Linked DNA regions of Homo sapiens: region 2 is linked to region 1. The links come from fine-mapping of genetic effects on gene expression. A gene starts in region 1. The other region holds a variant in brackets. All regions are shown on one strand. Distances are from middle to middle. Region 1 holds the start of PTCRA (pre T cell antigen receptor alpha). Region 2 has its middle 3.0 kb from the start of PEX39.

Evidence for each region. PIP is the estimated chance that this variant, and not a neighbour inherited with it, causes the effect.
Region 2: its variant is fine-mapped to the expression of PTCRA in whole blood (INTERVAL, PIP above 0.99).

Annotation. Positions count from the first base shown.
Region 1 is chr6:42,913,755-42,919,133 of GRCh38, forward strand. It overlaps PTCRA (pre T cell antigen receptor alpha), which reads left to right and starts at 2,299. Exons shown (of 4, transcript NM_138296.3): 1 at 2,299-2,373. The coding sequence starts at 2,316.
Region 2 is chr6:42,891,091-42,896,469 of GRCh38, forward strand. No RefSeq gene overlaps it. Among named protein-coding and RNA genes, the nearest start is that of PEX39, 3.0 kb to the left of the region's middle. RefSeq lists enhancers at 1-72, 133-182. The variant A/T (reference allele first, on the strand shown) is at 2,918.

The DNA.
Region 1 (5,379 bases):
AAATTTGGGGGACTGGGTGTGGTGGCTCAAGTCTGATCCCAGCACATTGGGAGGTCAAGGCAGGCAGATCATTTGAGCTCAGGAGTTCTAGACCAACCTGGGCAACATGGTAAAATCCCATCTCTACAAAAATACAAAAAATTAGCCAGGTGGTGGCGCACGCCTGTGGTCTTAGCTACTGGAGAGGTTAATTTGGGGGTGAGGCAGGAGGATCGCTTGAGCCAGGGAGGTGGAGGTTGCAGTGAGCCTTGACTGTACCACTGCACTCCAGTCTGGGTGACAGAGCAAGACCCTGTCTCAAAAACAAAAAAAGTAGCCGGGCGCGGTGGCTCACCCTTGTAATCCCAGCACTTTAGGAGGCCAAGGTGGGCGGATTGAGAGGTCAAGAGATCGAGACCATCCTGGCCAACATGGTGAAACCCCATCTCTACTAAAAATACAAAAATCAGCTGGGCATGGTAGCGCACGCCTGTAGTCCCAGCTACTCTGGAGGCTGAGGCAGGAGAATCGCTTGAACCCGGGAGGCAGAAGTCTCAGTGAGCCGAGATCACACCACTGCACTACAGCTTGGTGACGGAGAGAGATTCCATCTCCAAAAAAAAAAAAAAAAGCAAATTTGGAAAAGCTTTTATGAACAAAGATGGCCATTGTCCCAAACTGGAAACCCAAATGTCTAACAATAAAGGAATGGCTGCTGTAACAGAATGTCTGATTAAAAACAAAAGGACGCCAGGCACAGTGGCTCATGCCTGTAATGCCAGAACTTTGAAGGGTGGATCACTTGAGCTCAAGAGTTCGAGACCAGACTGGCAATATGATGAAACCCAGTCTCTGCAAAAAACACAAAAATTTAGCTGGGTGTGGTGGCATGTGCCTGTGGTCCCAGCTGCTTGGGAAGGTGAGGCAGGAGGATCGCTTGGGACTGGGAGGCAGATGTTGCATTGAGGTGAGATCATGCCACTGCACTCCAGCCTGAGTGATAAAGCCAGACTGTCTCCAAAAAATCCAAAAGGCTGAGGTGGGAGGATTGCTTGAGCCCAGGATTTCAAGAGTGTAGTGAGCTGTGATCGCATCACTGCACTCCAGCCTGGGTGACAGAGTAAAAGCCTGTCTCTTAAAAAAAAAAAAAAAGTTAAAATGGTATAATAAATGCCAGGCATGTGGCTCACACCAGTACTCCCAGCACTTCGGGAAGCCAGAGCAGGAGGATCGCTTGAGCCCAGGAGTACGAAACCAACATAGGCAACAAAGCAAGACTCCATCTCTACAAAAAATCAAAATAAAAATAAATTAGCTGGGTGTGGTAGCGCATGCCTGTGGTCTTAGCTACTCAGGAGGCTGACGAAGGAGGATCACTTGAGCCCAGGAGTTCAAGACTGCAGTGAGCTATGATTGTACTGCCGCATTCTAGCCTGGGCAACAAAGAAAGAACCCCATCTCTAAAAAAAAAAATTAAATAAATAAAAGGAGGGCTGTAACAACATGGCAAAAAGTTTACTGGGCATCTTTTTTTATTTTTTTTTTTTGAGATGGCGTCTCGCTCTGTCGCCCAGGTTGGAGTGCAGTGGCACAATCTTGGCTCACTGCAAGCTCCACCTCCCGGGTTCACACCATTCTCCTGCCTCAGCCTCCTGAATAGCTGGGACTACAGGTGCCCGTCACCACACCCAGCTAATTTTTTTGTATTTTTAGTAGAGACGGGGTTTCACCGTGTTAGCCAGGATGGTCTTGATCTCCTGACCTTGTGATCCGCTCGTCTCAGCCTCCCAAAGTGCTGGGATTACAGGCGTGAGCCACTGCGCCTGGCCCTGGGTATCTTTTTGCCTATAATAAAGCCAGCCATCTAAAAACAGTTCAAGCCCTGGCTCTGGTACCTGTCAGCTGTGTGGCCCTGGGCGGGTCCCTCACTCTCTGTGAGCCTCAGTTGCCTCACCTGTGAAATGTAACTCAGTGGTTGAGTGGATCAAGTGAAGGGCTGTATGTCAAGCCCCTGTCAAGCCACCTGGTGCTCCGTGTCCTGTGGATGGTAGCTGCCCTGAAGCGGGACTTTGCAGACTGAAGTGCTGTCTCTTCAGAGGGAGTGCAGGTGTCCGGCTCCTGGTGTGGGAGAGGCACCCTGTGCTCCCTGGCCCGTGAGACAAGATTGGGTTTGGGGGCCAGGGCAGGAGTAGGGGCCCGTCACCAGGGGAAACGGCTCGTGGTAGAGCAGCTGAGGTGCAGCTGGGCCTGTGGCCTAGAAGGCAGTCTTGTGGGTGCCTCCTCCCCCAGCCGCAACTCAGGTCTGCAGCTGGGTCCTGCCTCCTTCCGAGTGGGCCATGGCCGGTACATGGCTGCTACTTCTCCTGGCCCTTGGGTGTCCAGCCCTACCCACAGGTGAGCCCCCTCTTTGCCTTCCTCTCTGTCCCTCCTCAGTCTGCCGAAGCCCATCCCCTCACTCTGGACCTCCCTGGGTACTGATGGGCTGCAGGGAGGCAGGACAAGAGATATTTAGGGACCTCTGGGGAGGGTCCCTCTGGGGAGGGGACCTCTGGGGAGGGGACCCTATATAGAGGGTCCCCACTATACTCTTCCCATTGTACTCTTCCTCCCAGCCACCTTGCTCTGGGGCTCCTATGTCCTCCTGCCCTGGAGCCCACAGTGTTGATAGGGAGGCTGCCCCTCTTAGAGGTATAGAGAAATGAGAACAAACTGGATGGACATCCATAGAAGGTGGGGTTAGGGTAGCCAGTGTGTGTGATGTGATATGCAATGATGTCATATGGGTAACAGTGTGAGGTCCTGTCCTGTCCTTCTTGCCCTCAGGATGCCTGCCCTAGTTCAATAGGACTCAGGGTGTCTCAAGTTCACTCACAGCTCACGCTTATCAGTGGGCTCAGGATAGGACCCAAGGCCTCTTCCCAGGGTATTTACCCCCAGCCCTCCCATGATCAAGGCTGGAGCCAAAGGACTCATGTTTTGAGGGGAAAATTCCAGCTTCATCTAGAAGCATGTGCATGTGTGCATGTACGTGGTGGGGGAAGGTCCATGACTTTTGAGTCAGGGGGGTCTCCTTGATCTAGAGCTGGCCCCAAGTATCTCACAGGCACTCCTTCATTAGGGAGATAAACCACACCTATGTGGAACACAGGGAGCCCATGGCAGGAGGCCTGAGCTCGGGAAGGAAGTAACCAGGGTAAGCAGGGACAATCCTGGGATGCTTCATGGAAGAAGTGGAAGCTGAACTCAACTTGGGGAATGTCTCTATCTATATAACTGAAAAGGCTCTGGAGGTTGAGTCCTGGAGCTCGTGCCCAGCCTTCTCTACTACCTTTGTTTGCAATGCCTTATTAATATTAATATCAACAATTGCACTAATACTTATCTGCCAGGGCATTTTACACTTATGGCCTTTACTCTTCACAACAATTTTGCTGGGCTGGTATTATTAACAGCATTATATTATTATTATTATTATTATTATTATTATTATTATTATTATTTATTTTTGAGACAGAGTCTCGCACTGTCGCCCGGGCTGGAGTACAATGGTGTGATCTTGGCTCACTACAACCTCCACCTCCCGGGTTCACTTGATTCTCCTGCCTCAGCCTCCCAAGTAGCTGGGATTACAGGCACCTGCCACCACGCCCAGCTAATTTTTTGTATTTTTAGTACAGACGGAGTTTCACTGTGTTGGCCAGGCTGGTCTTGAACTCCTGACCTCATGATCCGCCCGCCTCAGCCTCCCAAAGTGCTGGGATTACAGACGTGAGCCACCTCACCCAGCCCGTTATATTATTATTATTATTATTATTATTATTATTATTATTATTATTAGACAGAGTTTGCTCTGTTGCCCAGATTGGAGTGCAATGGCACAATCTCAACTCACTGCATCCTCTGCCTCCCAGGTTCAAGCGGTTCTCCTGCCTCAGCTTCCCAAGTAGCTGGGATTACAGCCGCCCACCATCATGCCCGGCTAATTTTTGTATTTTTAGTGGAAACAGGGGTTCACCACGTTGGCCAGGCTGGTCCCGAACTCCTGACTTCAAGTGATTCACCTGACTCAGCCTCCCAAAGTGCTGGGATTACAGGCATAAGCCACTGAGCCCGGCCTAACACCATTATATTGATGAGACCATTGGGACTCACAAAAAATATTGTTCCTTCAACCTAAATAAATAAATAAATACATACATAATGAAAACAAAACAAAACAAACAAAAAGAGTCAGAAAATTGGCTGGGCGCGGTGGCTTACGCCTGTAATTCCAGCACTTTGGAAGGCCAAGGCGGGCAGATCACTTGAAGTCAGGAGTTTGAGACCAGCCTGGCCAACATGACGAAACCCCATCTCTACTAAAAAATACAAAAATTAGCTGGACATGGTGGCAGGTGCCTGTAATCCAGCTACTTAGGATGCTGAGGCAGGAGAATTGCTTGAACCCGGGAGGAGGAGGTTGCACTGAGCCAAGATCCCACCACTGCACTCCAGGCTAGGCGACAGAACCAGAATCAGTCTCAAAAAAAAAAAAAGCCAGGCATGGGGCTCATGCCTGTAATCCTAGCACTTTGCACTTTGGGAGGCTGAGGCAGGTGGATCACGAGGTCAGGAGTTCAAGACCAGCCTGGCCAAGATGGTGAAACCCCATCTCTACTAAAAATACAAAAATTAGCCACGCGTGGTGGTAGGTGCCTGTAATCCCAGCTACTCAGGAGGCTGAGGCAGGAGAATCGCTTGAACCCCGGTGGGTGGAGGTTGCAGTGAACAGAGATCCTGCCACTGCACTCCAGCCTGGGCAACAGAGTGAGACTCCATCTCAAAAATAATAATAATAATAATAATGAAATAAAATAAAGACTCAGAAAATTAAGTGAATGAGTCAGGAGTCACGCTTAGCTCTGTCTGAAGCTATGTCCTAGACGGTCCACTGTGTCACATGGCAAAATCTTAGTCATCCTTCAAAGTGAGATGGTTTAGGGGATTTGGAGTCACAGAGATCTGAGAGTTCAAATCCTGAATGGACAACTTACCATTTATGTGTTAGTAGGATAATTTTTTTTTTTTTTTTTTTGAGACAGAGTCTCGCACTGTCGCCCAGGCTGGAGTGCAGTGGTGCAATCTTGGCTCACTGTAAGCTCCGCCTCCCGGGTTCACGCCATTCTCCTGCCTCAGCCTCCCGAGTAGCTGGGACTACAGGTGCCTGCCACCATGCCTGGCTAATTTTTTGTATTTTTAGTAGAGACAGGGTTTCACCATGTTAGCCAGGATGGTCTCGATCTCCTGACCTCATGATCCGTCCACCTATTTTTTTTTTTTTTAATTTTTTGAGACAGAGTCCCGCTCTGTCGCCAGGCTGGAGTGCAATTCTCCTGCCTCAGCCTCCAGAGTAGCTGGGAT
Region 2 (5,379 bases), 23 kb before region 1:
CGGGCAAAAAGACCCATACATACATAAGCACCGCGCACATGCCCATTTTCATGCACACCCCCGGGCGCGCGTACAAGGATTCAGATACAACGCATGGCGGGGGATAATCCCCATACTAGGCTCCGCAGCACGGGACAAAGCATAACTGTAGAGTTGTTCCCAGAGGCCTCAGGAGTGACACCGCCACCAAGCCACGCTACTCTCTTAGTTGTTATTATTGTTTTGTGTTGTTTTAGACGGAGTCTCACTCTGTTGCCCAGGCCGGAGTGCAGCGATGCGATCTCAGCGCACTGCAACCTCCGCCTCCTGGTTCAAGCGATCCACAGGGTCCCTAGTGCCTCAGCCTCCCTAGTAGCTGGTGTATGCCACCAAGCCCAGCTAATTTTTGTATTTTTAGTAGAAACAGGGTTTCACCATGTTGGCTAGGCTAGTCTCGAACTCCTGACCTTAAGTGATGCACCCGCCTCAGCTTTCCAAAGTGCGGGGATTACAGGTGTGAGCCACCGCACCCAGCCAGAGCCTCACCACTTTCTTCACACTTCCTGCCATCCTTCAATTCTTGGTGGTCCCAGAGAAGATCGAAGGTGAAAGCAGGTCAGATGTGCTACAGCTGCTCTGACTGCTCGGAAAGTCAGGTTTTTAAATTATCAAAAGTGGCCGGGCACGGTGGCTCACACTTGTAATCCCAGCACTTTGGGAGGTGGAGGCAGGTGGATCTCAAGGTCAGGAGTTTGAGACCAGCCTGACCAACATGGGGCAACCCCCGTCTCTACTAAAAATACAAAAATTAGCTGGGTGTGGTGGCATGCACCTGTAATCCCAGCTACTCAGGAGGCTGAGGCAGGAGAATCGCTTGAACCTGGGAGGCAGAAGTTGCAGTGAGCTGAGATTGCAGCACTGCACTCTACCCTCGGTGACACAGCAAAACTCTGTCTCAAAAAAAAAAAAAAAAAGTATCAAAAGCTAGACTGATCTGGTGAACATCACCTTAATCAAAGAATCAAAGCTTAATGGCCAGGCGTGGTGGCTCACACCTGTAATCCCAGCACTTTGGGAGGCTGAGGTGGGCAGGTCACCTGAGATCAGGAGTTTGAGACCAGCCTGGCCAACATGGCGAAACCCCATCTCTACTAAAAATACAAAAAAATTAGCCAGGCATAGTGGTGCGCACCTGTAATCCCACCTACTTGGGAGGCTGAGGCAGAAGAATTGCTTGAACCTAGGAGGCAGGGAGGTTGCAGTGAGATGAGATCACACCACTGCACTCCAGCCTGGGCAACAGAGTGAGACTCAGTCTCAAAAAAAAAAAAAAAAAAAAAGCTTAATAGGACAAACTGGCCTTGTGTGCCTTCTGATGTGATGCACTGGGAAGGACACACACACGGGGAGTACATTTCTGTAGTAGTCCTCCCCAAAATGCCCAAAAAATGTTCACTCACCACCTAGTCTTGAGGAAATAGAGATCAAAGTGAGAGAGATTCTGCAAAATGATTGGTCTGGACACTTTACAGATGTCGTTGTTATAAAACATTAAGAAAAAGCTAAGAACTACCCCAGATTAAAGGAGACATAAAAAATAAATACAGGCCAGACACAGTGGCTCATGCCTTTAATCCCAGCACTTTGGGAGGCTGAGGTCGGTGGATTGCTTGAACTCAGGAATTCAAGACCAGCCTGGGCAATATAGCAAAACCCCATCTCTACTAAAAAATACAAAAAAAAAAAATTGCTGAACATGGTGGTGGACACCTGTAGTCCCAGCTATTCTGGAGGCAGTGGTCGAAGAATCGCTTGAACCCGGGTAGGTGGAGGTTGCACTGAGCTGTGATTGCCAGCAACTTCCGACTGGGAGACAGAGTGAAACTCTGTCTCCAAAAATAAAATAAAATATAAATAAATAAATAAATTCAATGAGTGATCCTGGATTAGATGCAAGATTGTGTAGGGGAGATCAGCTCTAAAGGACATTTTACCCTTGGGGAAATTTGAATATGATCCATATATTAGATGACAACGATATATCAATGTTAAATTTATCAAGTGTGATAATTGTGGTTATGTGTGGGAATTACCTTGTTCATAGCAAATACATTCTGAAGTATGTAGAGGTGAAGTGTCATGATGACAGAAAGAAAGCAAATGTGGCAAAATTGCTAAGAATTAGTGAATCCACGTGAGGGTTTGAAACTTGTCAAAATAAAAAGTTGGGGTAGGCCCGGTGCAGTGGCTCACGCCTATAATCCCAGCACTTTGGGAGTGGTCAAGGCAGGAGGATCACTTGAACCCAGGAGTTCAAGACTAACCTGGGCAACATAGTGAGACCCCCTCCAAAAACAAAAATTGGCTGGATGTGGTGGCACACACCAGTAGTTCCAGCTACTTGGAAGGCTGAGGCTGGAGTATCACTTGAGCTCAGGAGGTTGAGGCTGCAGTGAGCCAAGATTGTTCCACTGCACTCTAGCCTGAGCAACAGAGACTCTGTTAAAAAAAAAAAAATTGGGGTAGGGGGCACTTGGTAAGAGCTTGAGAAGCCAGTCTGGAGGAAACTGACCATATTGAATGTTGTATAATAAAGAATTTTGAAGGGGTGGCCTGCCCCTCCACACCTGCGGGTATTTCTCGTCAGGTGGGACGAGGGACTAAAAAAAGAAATAAGACACAGAGACAAAGTATAGAGAAAGAACACTGGGCCCAGGAGACCAGCGCTCAGCGTACGGAGGACCTGCACTGGCCCCAGTCTCTGAGTTCCCTCAGCATTTACTGATTATTATTTTCACTGTCTCAGCAAGGGGAATGCAGCAGGAGAACAGGGTGATAGCGGGGAGAAGGTCAGCAAGAAAACATGTGAGCAAAGGAATCTGTGTCACAAATAAGTTCAAGGGAAGGTACTATGCCTGGATGTGCACATAGGCCAGAT[A/T]TATGCTTCTCTCCACCCAAACATCTCAGTGTAGTAAAGAATAACACAGCAGTATTGCCACCAGCATATCTCGCCTCCAGCCACAGGGCGGTTTTCTCCTATCTCAGAATAGAACGAATGTACAATCGGGTATTATACTGAGACATTCCGTTCTCAGGGGCATGCAGGAGACAGAGGCCTTCCTCTTATCTCAACCGCAAGAGGCCTTCCTCTTTTACTAATCCTCCTCAGCACAGACCCTTCACGGGTGTCGGGCTGGGGGATGGTCAGGTCTTTCCCGTCCCACGAGGCCATACCTCAGGCTGTCTCAGTGGGGAGAAACCTTGGACAATACCTGGCTTTCCTGGGCAGAGGTCCCTGTGGCTTTCTGCAGTGCATTGTGCCCCTGGTTAATCGAGAATGGAGAATGGCGATGACTTTTACCAAGCATACTGCCTGTAAACATTTTGTTAACAAGGCACATCCTGCACAGCCCTAGATCCCTTAAACCTTGATTCCATACAACACATATTTCCGTGAGCACAAGGTTGGGGCTAAAGTTACATATTAACAGCATCTCAAGGCAAAACAATTGTTCAGGGTACAGATCAAAATGGAGTTTCTTATGTCTTCCTTTTCTATGTAGACACAGTAACAGTCGGATCTCTCTTTTCCCTACATATCCCCCTTTTTGACAAAACTGCCATCGTCGTTATGGCCCGTTCTTGCTGGTCGCTGTCTCTTCGGAGCTGGTGGATACACCTGTGGACTAACAACAGACAGAACAGGCATACAAGGATTAATATGAAATTTACAATAGTGGAACTTCTGATGGTTTTTAACCAAGTGACAGTGTTAAGATTTGTGAGGCCATCAGTAGCTTTCACGATTGCCTCAGTTCCCAAATTTAAATGGGCTTTCGATGCCTCAAAATTTTGTTATTTTAATTTTGAAATATCTAAAGTAAGATTATCTTCTCTTCCCTGTAGATGGCATCTAACCATGTCCCAGTGATGCTCAGACTCATTATAGGCTTGGGGTGTAATACAAAAATCTGACATATTCCAGTCACACTGTAACTGAAAAAGATATTCCAAGCTCATGAGCCTATTTCCCAGCCAAATGACAGTTTGTCTAAGATCATTAATTTCGTTTGCCAATTTTTGATTTATTTGGGTCTGAGAATTCCACAATTTTGAGGAATTCTTTCGCCAATCATTTACATATTCTGCAGTTTGAACAGAGGAGTGTAAAGCAATTCCAGCAGCTGCAGCAGTAGCTGTGACTGCAATAAGGCCCATAATCACTGCAATCAAAGTAAAAATCTTTTGGATCTAGTTAGAATTCCTTTTAATACTTCCGTTAAAATATGGAAGATGGCGAAGCCTCCCACTGTCGGTCCATGGACACAGGGATCCGCACACCTTCTCTTGCCCTCACTAGCAGAATATGGCGCTGCCAATTAAAAGTCAAATCAATGCAAGTAAACAATCTACAGTTTTCACAGGTTATAGTTTGGGAATCTGGTTTAATAACTATGTTTTCTATAACTAGCATATAAGGGGGTTTTACACAACTTTGTAAAGGAATTGTCAGATTGGAATTTAGGTTGATAGTATAATATGGCTTACGATTTCTTGTTTCTGTAGCTTGATTTCCAGACCAAATTCTAATGTAGTGCGAGGCCACAGTAAGCTTCCATAATTTTGGATGTTTAGGACCAGTAACAGGACTAACTAACTTTGGTCGAGGTGATGAAATTCCCTTTTCACCCCATTTCCAGGGATAGGGTGATTCTAGCCTTCTATAAACCTGGTCCAGCCTTTCAATTAAATCACTATCATAGGCCGGATTAATGGGCCAGATGGATGGGGCCTGTAAACATGAGTGAGTCTGGCCCATACAATTATATATAATATAATTGTATATAATATAATATAATATATAACTATTATATAATATTATAGTAGTTCCAAATTCATTGTTTTGTAATACCACCGCAGTATTAGCCACACATTCTTCCCAAACTAAGGCTTCTGGGCTTTTTGATTCTTTGGGAATTTCCTTGGGGCAAGGCTTCCCCTTAGGCCCAGATTTTAATGATCTTTGATAAGAAGCGTCCTCTAAATTATTTATCTGTGGCCCGAGTGACATTCCACTTACCATGTGATAAGTAAATTTACTGGTGGCACTGACGGTAGGTACTTCTACCAACCAGTTTTGGGTTGTAGGCATTAAACATCCTGGTGCCTTCCCTAGGCAAATAGGAGGATAATGATACCCAGTGGAAACATTTATCATCATTCCTTCTTCTTTAGGTTGGGCAGGGCAACAATCGTCTGTGGGGCCTGGTACCCATGCCCTATTATTAACATATACTTCAACAGGATTATCCATCCATGTGACTGCCCAAATTAAGGGTGGGAAAGGCACATAGGCACAGTAAGTATAATTAGTTGCAGCTGCTCCTGCAGACATGGGGA